2 separate regions of the Homo sapiens genome follow, and region 2 is linked to region 1. The links come from fine-mapping of genetic effects on gene expression. Tissue or cell type: tibial artery. Region 1 holds a variant in brackets; the other region holds the start of a gene. All regions are shown on one strand. Distances are from middle to middle. Region 1 overlaps NBR1 (NBR1 autophagy cargo receptor). Region 2 holds the start of TMEM106A (transmembrane protein 106A).

Evidence for each region. PIP is the estimated chance that this variant, and not a neighbour inherited with it, causes the effect.
Region 2: TMEM106A starts here. The variant in region 1 is fine-mapped to the expression of TMEM106A in tibial artery (GTEx, PIP 0.97).

What each region holds. Positions count from the first base shown.
Region 1 is chr17:43,185,355-43,190,734 of GRCh38, reverse strand. NBR1 (NBR1 autophagy cargo receptor) reads right to left here. Exons shown (of 21, transcript NM_005899.5): 6 at 4,291-4,485; 7 at 1,616-1,693; 8 at 933-1,147; 9 at 1-126. Among named protein-coding and RNA genes, the nearest start is that of NBR1, 17 kb to the right of the region's middle. The variant C/T (reference allele first, on the strand shown) is at 3,265.
Region 2 is chr17:43,208,645-43,214,024 of GRCh38, reverse strand. It overlaps TMEM106A (transmembrane protein 106A), which reads right to left and starts at 2,150. Exons shown (of 9, transcript NM_145041.4): 1 at 2,103-2,150; 2 at 1,631-1,798; 3 at 773-1,004; 4 at 134-197. The coding sequence starts at 983. NBR1 (NBR1 autophagy cargo receptor) reads right to left here. Exons shown (of 21, transcript NM_005899.5): 21 at 2,337-4,124. The coding sequence ends at 3,951.

The DNA of each region.
Region 1 (5,380 bases):
TTTGAGTGACAGAACGGTTCAGAGGAGCCCACAACAGGTCTCCGCAACTTCAGCAGGACGTGGTTAGTGTCATGGCCATATGGCCCTGCTTCACAATCTTCACAGATATTGTAGGATGGGCATAGGCTGTGGGGAAAGAATGGCACAATACACAATGGCAGAATAGGAAGTACCTGGGGTAGGGAGATATAAGACCATACTTCTATGTTTGCTCCAGTACCAACTAGCAGGTAACCTGAGCATGCCATCTGACTATGCCATGCCTCAATTTTCCTCATTAATAAAATGAGGATAATAACACTTAACCCATATCCATTTTAAATGAAAATCTATGGGAGGAAGGTAAGATGTGAAAGTACATGGGGCCAGGCACAGTGGCTCATGTCTGTAATCCCAGCACTTTGGGAGGCCATGGAGAAGAGGATCATTTGAGTCCAGTAGTTTGAGACTAGCCTGGGCAATATAGGGAGACCCCATCTCCAAAAAAATAATTAAAAGGCAGTCTGTGATCCCAGCTACTTGGCAGGCTGAAGTGGGAGGATTGTCTGAGCCTGGGAGGGTGAGGCTGCAGTGAACCATGATTGCACCCTGCACTCCAGCCTGGGTGACAGAGACCCTGTCACCAAAAAAAAAAAAAAAAAGGCATTTGGAACAACCGAGGAACTACCCTTAGTGATCTAATTTTGTCCGTTCAGGGGAACATAATTTTGCCTGGCTTTGCTAATCCAAATGCACATTTGAACACAACAATCTGAATAGTTACAACATACAAAGCATGTGGGTGAAGAGTAGCTTGTGCTTCCAACTCACAGCTACAACATCTAATGCTCAGAAACAGGGTACAATTAATTTCCCTTTACCTACACAGAAAGCCAGGGAGGTAAAAGCTGTAAGGTCTATCACTAGCTAGCTACTCCCAAGCAACTGCTTACCTACACTGGTAGCGGACACCAACAATCCTTCTTTGGCAGTTGTTGCAAGCAATATGCCAGCTGAACTGGTTTTCTGGCAAAAACAATGTTTCTTCTGAAGTAGGCATTGAGACTTCTGAGGGACAAGAACCCAAGGATGGGTTCTGGAGGACAAGCTTTTCATGTAATTTCTGTTCAAGCTTCTCAACCGTTTCGTTAACCACTTGTTCTCTGAACTAGAATATGGAGCAGAAGGTAGGGAAAAAACTCAGTTCCAATATCAGAAAAAAATGTGAAGATATCAATAGATCTGAAACCTAACTGTCTCTGGTATAATACAAAAACACAATAAACAACTGCTACTGAATAGACAGAAACATAGCAAAAGGTCTATTCCTTCCACAGCTAAACTGGTTCGAAGAAAATATCAAAACATCCTTTTGATAAGTAAATTTCTAACTTTTTCTCAAGCAGAGAGTTGTCCCTCTCCCTTACATGCTTAGAATTAGACTCCCTCTTTTTCTGACACTTCACTGCAAAGGTTAGAGCTTTCTCGACTGGAACTGTTCTAAGTTTGGAAATTATAAGCTACCACTCTTCACCGGTACTAGAGGCAGCAGCCACCTGGGTTCAGTTTTCTATTTCTTCCACATTCCACCTGTGCCAACACCGCAGTTAAAACCCAAGCGAGACAGAACACTCACCGTCTCCAGGTAGCTTGTGAACCAGTCTGGGGGCTTGTCTTGAGGCTGGTCTGTGTCACATGGAACAAGTGGAAACGACTGGGAGAAAACACAAGCCGAGATGTTAGAGGTTACTTTTTCTATTTAAAATACTTTTCCTGGAGTGTATTATTTTGAGGTTTCTTTTGTGAAATCATACAAGTATATAATTTTTTAAAAAGTCACAGTATGAAGGCGTACTAAAGGAAAACAAAGTCTCTAGCCTGCTCCCCTTCTACAGAAGTAAACTATTACCAGTTTCAAAAGTCAGAGAGAGGAGCACACTAATTCCCAAATCTCTGATAAATGTGCAAATCTTACAACAAAGACAATGAGAAATAAATCTAGAAATTGGATAGACTGAAACAGGCAATGGGGAAAGGATTCCCTATTTAATAAACGGTGCTGGGAAAACTGGCTAGCCATATGTAGAAAACTGAAACTGGACCCCTTCCTTACACCTTATACAAAAATTAACTCAAGGTGGATTAAAGACTTAAACATAAGATCTAAAACCATAAAAACCCTAGAAGAAAACCTAGGCAATACCATTTAGGACATAGGCAGGGGCAAAGACTTCATGACTAAAACACCAAAAGCAGTGGCAACAAAAGCCAAAATTGACAATGGGATCTAATTAAACTAAAGAGCTTCTGCACAGCAAAAGAAACTATCATCAGAGTGAACGGGCAACCTACACAATGAGAGAAAACTTTTGCAATCCATCCATCTGACAAAGGGCTAATATCCAGAATCTATAAGGAACTTAAACAAATTTACAAGAAAAAAACAACCCCATCAAAAAGTGGGTAAAGGATATGAACAGACAATTCTCAAAAGAAGACATTTATTCGGCCAACAAACCTATGAAAAAAAGCTCATCATCACTGGTCATTAGAGAAATGCAAATCAGGCCGGGCGCAGTGGCTCACGCCTGTAATCCCAGCACTTTGGGAGGCTGAGGCGGGTGGACCACGAGGTCAGGAGATCAAGACCATTCTGGCTAACATGTTGAAACCCCATCTCTACTAAAAATACAAAAAAATAGCTAGGCGTGGTAGTGGGCGCCTGTAATCCCAGCTACTCGAGAGGCTGAGGCAGGAGAATGGCGTGAACCCGGGAGACAGAGCTTGCAGTGAGCCCGGATTGCACCACTGCACTCCAGCCTGGGCGACAGAGTGAGACTCCATCTCAAAAAAAAAAAAAAAAAAAAAAGAGAAATGCAAATCAAAACCGCAATGAGATACCATCTCACACCAGTTAGAATGGCAATCATTAAAAAGTCAGGAAACAGGGCTGGGCATGGTGGCTCACACCTGTACTCCCAGCACTTTGGGAGGCCGAGGTGGGCGGATCACAAGGTCAGGAGTTCCAGACCAGTCTCACCAACATACTGAAACCCTGTCACTGCTAAAAATACAAAAAATTAGCCAGGTGTGGTGGTGTGTGCCTGTAATCCCAGCTACTCGGGAGGCTGAGGCAGGAGAATCACGTGAACCTGGGAGGCAGAGGTTGCAGTGAGCCAAGATCACGCCACTGTACTCCAGCCAGGGCGAAGGTGCAAGACTCTGTCTCAAAAAAAAAAAAAAAAAAAAAAAAGTCAGGAAATAATAGATGTTGGAGGCCGGGCG[C/T]GGTGGCTCACGCCTGTAATCCCAGCACTTTGGGAGGCCAAGGCGGGCGGACCATGAGGTCAGGAGATCGAGACCATCCTGGCTAACACGGTGAAACCCTGTCTCTACTAAAAATAAAAAAAATTAGCTGGGCGTAGTGGCAGGTGCCTATAGTCCTAGCTACTCAGGAGACTGAGGCAGGAGAATGGTGTTAACCCGGGAGGCAGAGCTTGCAATAAGCCGAGATCGCGCCACTGCACTCCACAGCCTGGGCAACAGAGTGAGACTCCGTTTCAAAAAAAAAGAAATAATAGATGTTGGAGAGGATGTGGAGAAATAGAATGCTTTTACACTGTTGGTGGGAGTGTAAATTAGTTCAACCATTGTTGAAGACAGTGTGGCGATTCCTCAGGGATCTAGAACCAGAAATACCATTTGACCCAGCGATCCCATTACCGGGTATATACCCAAAGGGTTATAAATCATTCTGCTATAAAGACACATGCAAACGTATGTTTATTGCAGCACTATTCACAATAGCAAAGACTTGGAACCAACCCAAATGCCTATCAATGATAGACTGGATAAAGAAAATGTGGCACATGTACACCATGGAATAATACGCAGCCATAAAAAAGGATGAGTTCATGTCTTTTGCAGGGACATGGATGAAGCTGGAAACCATCATTCTTAGCAAACTAACTCAGGAACAGAAAACCAAACACAGCATGTTCTCACTGATATGTGGGAGTTGAACAATGAGAACACATGGACACAGGGAGGGGTACATCACACACGGGGGCCTGTCAGGGGGTGGGGTGATAGGGGAGGGATAGCATTAGGAGAAATACCTAAGGTAGATGATAGGTTGATGGGTGCAGCAAACCACCATGGCTCATGTATACCTATATAACAAACCTGCACATTCTGCACATGTATCTCAGAACTTAAAGTATAATAAAAAAATAAAATAAAGAAACCTGTTCAGCTTTATTTAAAAAAGAAAAAAGAAACGATATTGGATAGACTGGGCCATACCCTTCATACCTGCACTGCAGGATCCTCTGGGGTCTTCATGTCTGATCCCAAGACTCTCACCAGTGAAGAGTAATGTGCAAGTGGCTTCTTCCCTGCCCTGGCAGCTAGTCGTTTTGCTCCTACAACTGGGGGTGGGGCTTCATCAACGACATGGTGCCCTTCGTGGACTTGCATCTGCAGTTGGTTTCCCTGTTTAACTGCCATCTAAGAGCATACATTATGAAACAAAAACATGCGACGTGATTATCTTCTCCTAAATAACATTTCAAAGACATCAAAACAGAAGAGTGTGGTAAGTTATGCTAGAAAATACTAGGATTTGTGTTTGCTTTATTAAATCCAACAACAAATGTAATGTTTACACTCAACTTGCTATTTCTTTGGTAAGAATGTTAACTAGAAATTTATTTATTTATTTATTTATTTATTTATTTATTTATTTATTTATTTTTGAGACGGAGTTTTGCTCTTGTTGCCCAGGCTGGAGTGCAATGGCACGGTCTTGGCTCACTGCAACCTCCGCCTCCTGGGTTCAAACGATTCTCCTGCCTAAGCCTCCCAAGTAGCTGGTATTACATACAGGTGCCAACCACCACACCCAGCTAATTTTTGTATTTGTAGTAGAGATGGGGTTTCACTATGTTGGCTAGGCTGGTCTCGAACTCCCGACCTCAGGTGATCCACCCACCTCGCCCTCCCAAAGTGCTGAGATTACAGGCATGAGCCACCGTGCCCAGCCTAGAAATTTATTTTTATTTTTTTGAGATGGCAATTTGCTCTGTCACCCATGTTGGAATGCAGTGCATGGCTCACTGCAGCCTGTCTCTTGGGCTCAAGCGATCTTCCCACCTCAGCCTCCCGGGTAGCTGGGATTACAGGCGCATGCCACCACACCTGGCTAAGGTTTTTGTTTTAGTTTGGAGACAGGAGTCTCACTGTGTTGCCCAGACTGGTCTTGGACACCTGAGTTCAACTATCCTCCCACCTCAGCCTCCTGAGTAACTGGGACTACAGGTGCGCACCACCATACCTGGCTAACTTTTGTATTTTTGTAGAGGTGAAATTTCATGATGTTGCCCAGGCTAGTCTCGAACTCCCG
Region 2 (5,380 bases), 23 kb before region 1:
GGTACCTCTGAGGCTCAGGCTTTCTATGGAAGAACTAATAGGAAGAAATTAAGGGAGATCAAAACAGGGGAGACAAAGGGAGCAGCCCCCAGGGGCAATGGCTTGTGAAGCTAGGGGAGGAAGGGGGGCTTACGTGTGCTTGGGCTTCAGCCTCTGGTCCCCATAGGGAATGAGAGCCACCAACTGCTTCTCCAGCTCTAGAGAGAGAGAAGGTGAGAGGGAGGGCCAAGATGCAACTGTGACAAATATTTACTGTGCCAGCTTCCCAGAAGCACGCCTCCACCCACACCATAGAGCAATGTTAGAAACATGCCACATCTGCCCCAGAGCAGGACTGGAAGCACTGGACTCTGCTACCAAAGTTGGCAGCTCAGCTTTGCCATCTCTAGAATGGAAGTGAGATTTCCACTAATAGGTATGAAGAATCTCTGAAAGTCACCAGCAAATCAGAGATGCCCAGCATCTTTGGAAAGTTCATTTGTAACTTCCTGAACTGAATGAATCCTAGGACACACAGTGTTGCTCAGAAGCACAGTGGCTAGAATCCTTCTTTCCCACAAGGGGCTGGAGAATACAACCAGGGAAGGAGGGCAGGTTTTTGCAGGGAACCCAAGGATAGTTAAGTATCTCCCTGGCCAGCCTGAGACTGGGAGGTCAAGAGCTGGGAGCAGATCTAACCCCATCCAAGGAGACTCAGAGGGGCTGCCCCAGGCCAACAGGCTAAGAACTTTCCCTGGATTCCAGGCTATTTCCAGAGCCTTGGGCCACTCACCTTGGGGAATCTTGCCACTGCCCTGGCAGGTGGGACAAGTCACGAAGCTGGCATCAGCAGTTCCTTCACAAGGCACACAGGAACAAAAAGACTTGCTGCTACCGGTGCTGGAGTAGTTGACAGCCTTGCTGCCAATGGCTGGTTTGGAGGACAGGATTGACTTGTTCTCATCCTCCCGCCAAGAGCCCAGCTGGGAAAACGTCTTACCCATTCTTCAGGGGCGGGGGTTTCACTAATGAGAAAAGACCAAAGTTCAGTGCTAAGCTTGTTAGCACTGACGCCAGATGTAATTTTGGTTTGAAGTTCTCAAGACTGGCAAGGAGCTTCACCACAGTTTAAGCAAGCTCAAGCCTAAGGAAGATAGGATGTGAAAAACTGGGTGGTCACATGGGACTCTCAGAAGTCTCAATGCATTTCGACTCCTTTCATTATTTTAAAAGAGACCAATCTGCCTACAAAAGGGAAAACAAAAGAAAAGCAGAAGTTACTTCACTTTAAGGAACTTCCATAAGTGATTGTCAGAGCATTTAATTTTTCTCTGGAAAAGTTGCTGAGCTGTCATTCAGTTTAAGGGAAGGAAGTTGGATAGGGCAGAAAAGAGATTCTTTGAATCAAGGAGAGAGGAGGCCAGACTGGTCACAGGTGTGGTTAAGACCCCTATCTAAAGAAGCCCTGGGAGAAAGCAGACACCTCACTGCTTTCTGAGGCGGGGTAAGAAAGCCTGAGGAGGGTCATAGTGATACCAGGGTCTGTCTTTCACTAGGAAAACTCAAGGCTAAATCTGGACTCTGTGTGACAGAACGAGGCCGGCAAGTGAGCCACACAGATCTTTCTGGGCTAAAATATAGGGATGCTCACCTTGTTCAGGTCTGGGATCCCAGGCTCCTCAGCCGCACGAGGGCGAGACTTCTGGAGTGCGTCTTTGGGGAGAAGGGCCTCTAAGGGCAGAGTGGGCTGGGCTGGGCTGAGCTGAGCTGGGCGGTGGTGGGGAGAAGCACCGCCTGGGGCCGGCAACCGGCCGGAGTCCTAGGGGAACGAATGTGCCGCACTGGAGAGTGGGGATAGTAAGGACGCTGACCTCCCCGAAGGGCCAAGCCGATTCCTGGGCTACATGGGGGCTCTGCCATGGGCCGACCGGGTGGAAGCGGACGGAGAAGGTGTGACTTCATTAAGGGAGGATTTCAAGTCCCACCACACACCCCTAGAGGCCGTTAGTCAAGCTTGGTACCCGTGCGGGGGGCGCCTGTGTGTTGGGCGAGGAGGCGGCAACAGGAGGTGTCTTGACCTCCGAAAGGTAAAGTAGGTATAAAGGGTCTAGGGAGGGCCTTACCCGCGGACGACTGCAGCGACAGAAACGGAAGAGAGTGGAATCGAAAATGCGGGAGCGAACACTCCCCTCAAGCTTTGACTCAGTGCCCAGGGAAGTCCCGCCCCAGCCCCTAAGGGCCCACCCCCCCGTCCCCCGGTCCGCCCCTTCGCCACGCAGCAGCCTGAGACGCTGCCAGCTCTTCAAACGTTACCCGAGGGCCCGGACGCTGCTTCCGCAAGGACTAGCCAGTCCGGGTAGGAATTTCCAAGAACATTTATTTCACCATTCTTTAGGTGGTTATGTACAAGTACATACATAACCAGGAGAGCAACCCGGGCCCTCCTGGCCCTCGATTATAAAACTCCGATGGTCAAGACAGGTCCCACCCATCAACCCAATTACACCCTGCCGCTCCACCTTCTACCCGGAAGCCCCGATTAAAACGTTTTAAATAATGAACGGCCTGGCTGGCTTGCAGTTTGAATCCTGGTTTATTTAAGTAGCATTCAGGAGTTATACTGTAAATAAACATCATTATGGCTAATGACTAATTAAAATCACCATTCATTACAAATACCAACCAGGTTAGATAATACTATTAACTATCTTTTCCCCTTCGGTCTGGGGTTCATATTCTTCCTTTTCTGGAAGTCATTTTCATGGATAAAATATTTAGCATTTTTTGTTACCTCTTCCTTCACCAACTGTACTCAACACACTTCTGTAAACAGAGTGAGAACCTGGGTTCATGGACAAGCTCTTTTCCACTTATCTTCGGGTTAAACCAAAACTTTTTCAGCAACTTTGCCCCTGTCCAAGTTTTGCAGAACACCAGCTGCCTCTTCCTGTTCTAGGCATTCTAGGGCTAGATACCTGTGAACGGACTTCAAGCATTAAAGAAGTCATCAGCATTTCCTATACCTCACACACACTCATTTGCCCACCCTGAACTTCACTGACATTAATTTAGGAGCCTGCCTTTTGCCTTTCACATGTTTCTATTTCCCCCACTGTACTGTAAAATAAGATCTGCCCTGACATTAAGAAAAAAGGCAACTGTTAAATTTACTTTTCCCTTTAAATAACGGGATTTTTTCCTTTTCTATAAGATTAGCAAAATATTTCACAATACCTATATTTTTTCCCTTAAATAAAAATGTATGCAAAATTACTATAATAGACATTGCTCAATAGGTGCTGGTAGGTTTATCAGCACACTCTTCCTCCTTTCATTGAAATGCGGAGATTCCCTTGAAGTTGGATACTCTTGAATGCACCATGGAGTCTTTAGAAAGCAACGGTGCCAATTATTAAGTATTGCAGGAAAATTACTTTCTCCTTGAGAGAGGAAGAGTAACAACATTTCTATCATGCTCTGGGTGTTATTTCAATGCCAAATAACTATGAAGCTTGAGGTGGATTACAGAAATTATGAGAATAAGAATTATGAGAATAATTCTTAAAAACAACTTCCGAGGTTAATGTCTTTCAAAACCTGAAAATTAACAGATATCCCCATAAAAAATCCACATTAGCCAAAGAAAAATACTCAGTTTCAATAAAAGCAGAAAGAAAAATGGTTCTATATGAAGTTGAAGTTACACTTGTCAATGCACTAAAATAGTTTTATCCAAATCAACTGAAAAACTGTCTTCATACTATTCATCCAATGTCTAAAGTGAAAATTTAAGTTCTGGTCTTTAGTTTGCTCCCCAAAATACTGTAGCAGGTATTGTCTTGGTAACTCAACGATGGGCTCTATACAGATTCATCAGATTAAAAATAAGCAAGGGCTTCTATCCCATACCCCAATGACAGAATAAAGATCATCTCTGAGCAGCAGGCAGTTATTTAATACAAGGTCACTCCTCAATAGCGTTGGCTGTACCAGTCGTTGTTGTTTAACTGAAGAAGTTCTGTCACAACCTGCAGGATATTGTAATTGTGTTTCTTCAGCAGCCGTAGGTTCAGCTGCCTGTCACAGAATCCCATTTCAAAGAGATGGGCCATCAGGGCTGCTGTCTGATCTTCAGAAATTATTGGCTGTGTAGAGACAAGCAAAGCAAAAAAAAAAAAAAAAATTCTGTATAATTTAAATGTTTATTTTATACATTTGTATCATCTTGCAAGCATACTAGTCTTTCCAGATTTATTCAAAGTACTAGGTAATTAGATTCAAGGCTATGGCACTCCTGTGTACTTGATACCAACGGTTCGGACTGGGAAGGCCCTATTTTAGATTAGTTATCTGTGTACTTGAAGGAGGAGAAAAGGGAAACCGGGGAGCTAATGAACTGTACTTAGAACCAGGAGAATGCTTCACTCGGGGCTTTCAGGAAGAAGCATTTTTTGGCCAGATGAAGGAATGACAGCAAGCCCCAGAGACCCTGTGAACATAAGTGTAATTGTGATGATGGGGGAAGTATGAGCAAGATAAAAGTGTTACTGAAAGATGCTATGGGAAATTTTGTCAGATATGCAGAGGAGCTGGACAAAAAAAACAGCTTGGGAAATTACAACCTGGGAAGGCTTCTTGATTTTTTCTCCTCCAAAAGAATAGGTAAGAGGGGCTGGGTGCGGTGGCTCACACCTGTAATCCCAGCACTTTGGGAGGCTGAGGCGGGCGGATCATGAGGTCAGGAGATTGAGACCATCCTGGCTAACACAGTGAAACCCCATCTCTACTAAAAATACAAAAAATTAGCCAGGCGTGGTGGCAGGCGCCTGTAGTCCCAGCTACTCGGGAGGCTGAGGCAGGACAACGGCGTGAACCCAGGAGGTGGAGCTTGCAGTGAGCCGAGATCGCGCCATTGCACTCCAGCCTGGGTGACAGAGCGAGACTCCATCTCAAAAAAAAAAAAACAAGAATAGGTAAGAGGAAGTTAACATTCATTCATTCAAGCCCTGTGGTGGAAGCATTACCTTCCTAAATCCTTAAACGCTTGTTTTGTTGTTGTTGTTGTTTTGTTTGTTTTTTGAGACAGGGTGTCACTCTGTTCCCCAGGCTGGTGTGCAGTGGTGTGAACACAGCTCATTGCAGCCTCAACCTCCTGGGCTCAAGTGATCCTCCTGCCTCAGCCTTCCAAATAGCTGGGACCACTGGTCTGCGCTACCACGCCCGGCAAATTTTTAAATTTTTTACTAGAGATGAGGTTTCCCTATGTTGCCCAGGCTGGTCTTGAACTTCTGGGCCCAAGTGATCCTTGAACTTTGGTCTCCCAAAATGCTGGGATTATAGATGTGAGCCACCTCGCCTGGCCTCTGGTTCTGTTATTATCCCAATTTCACAGACTGGGGAT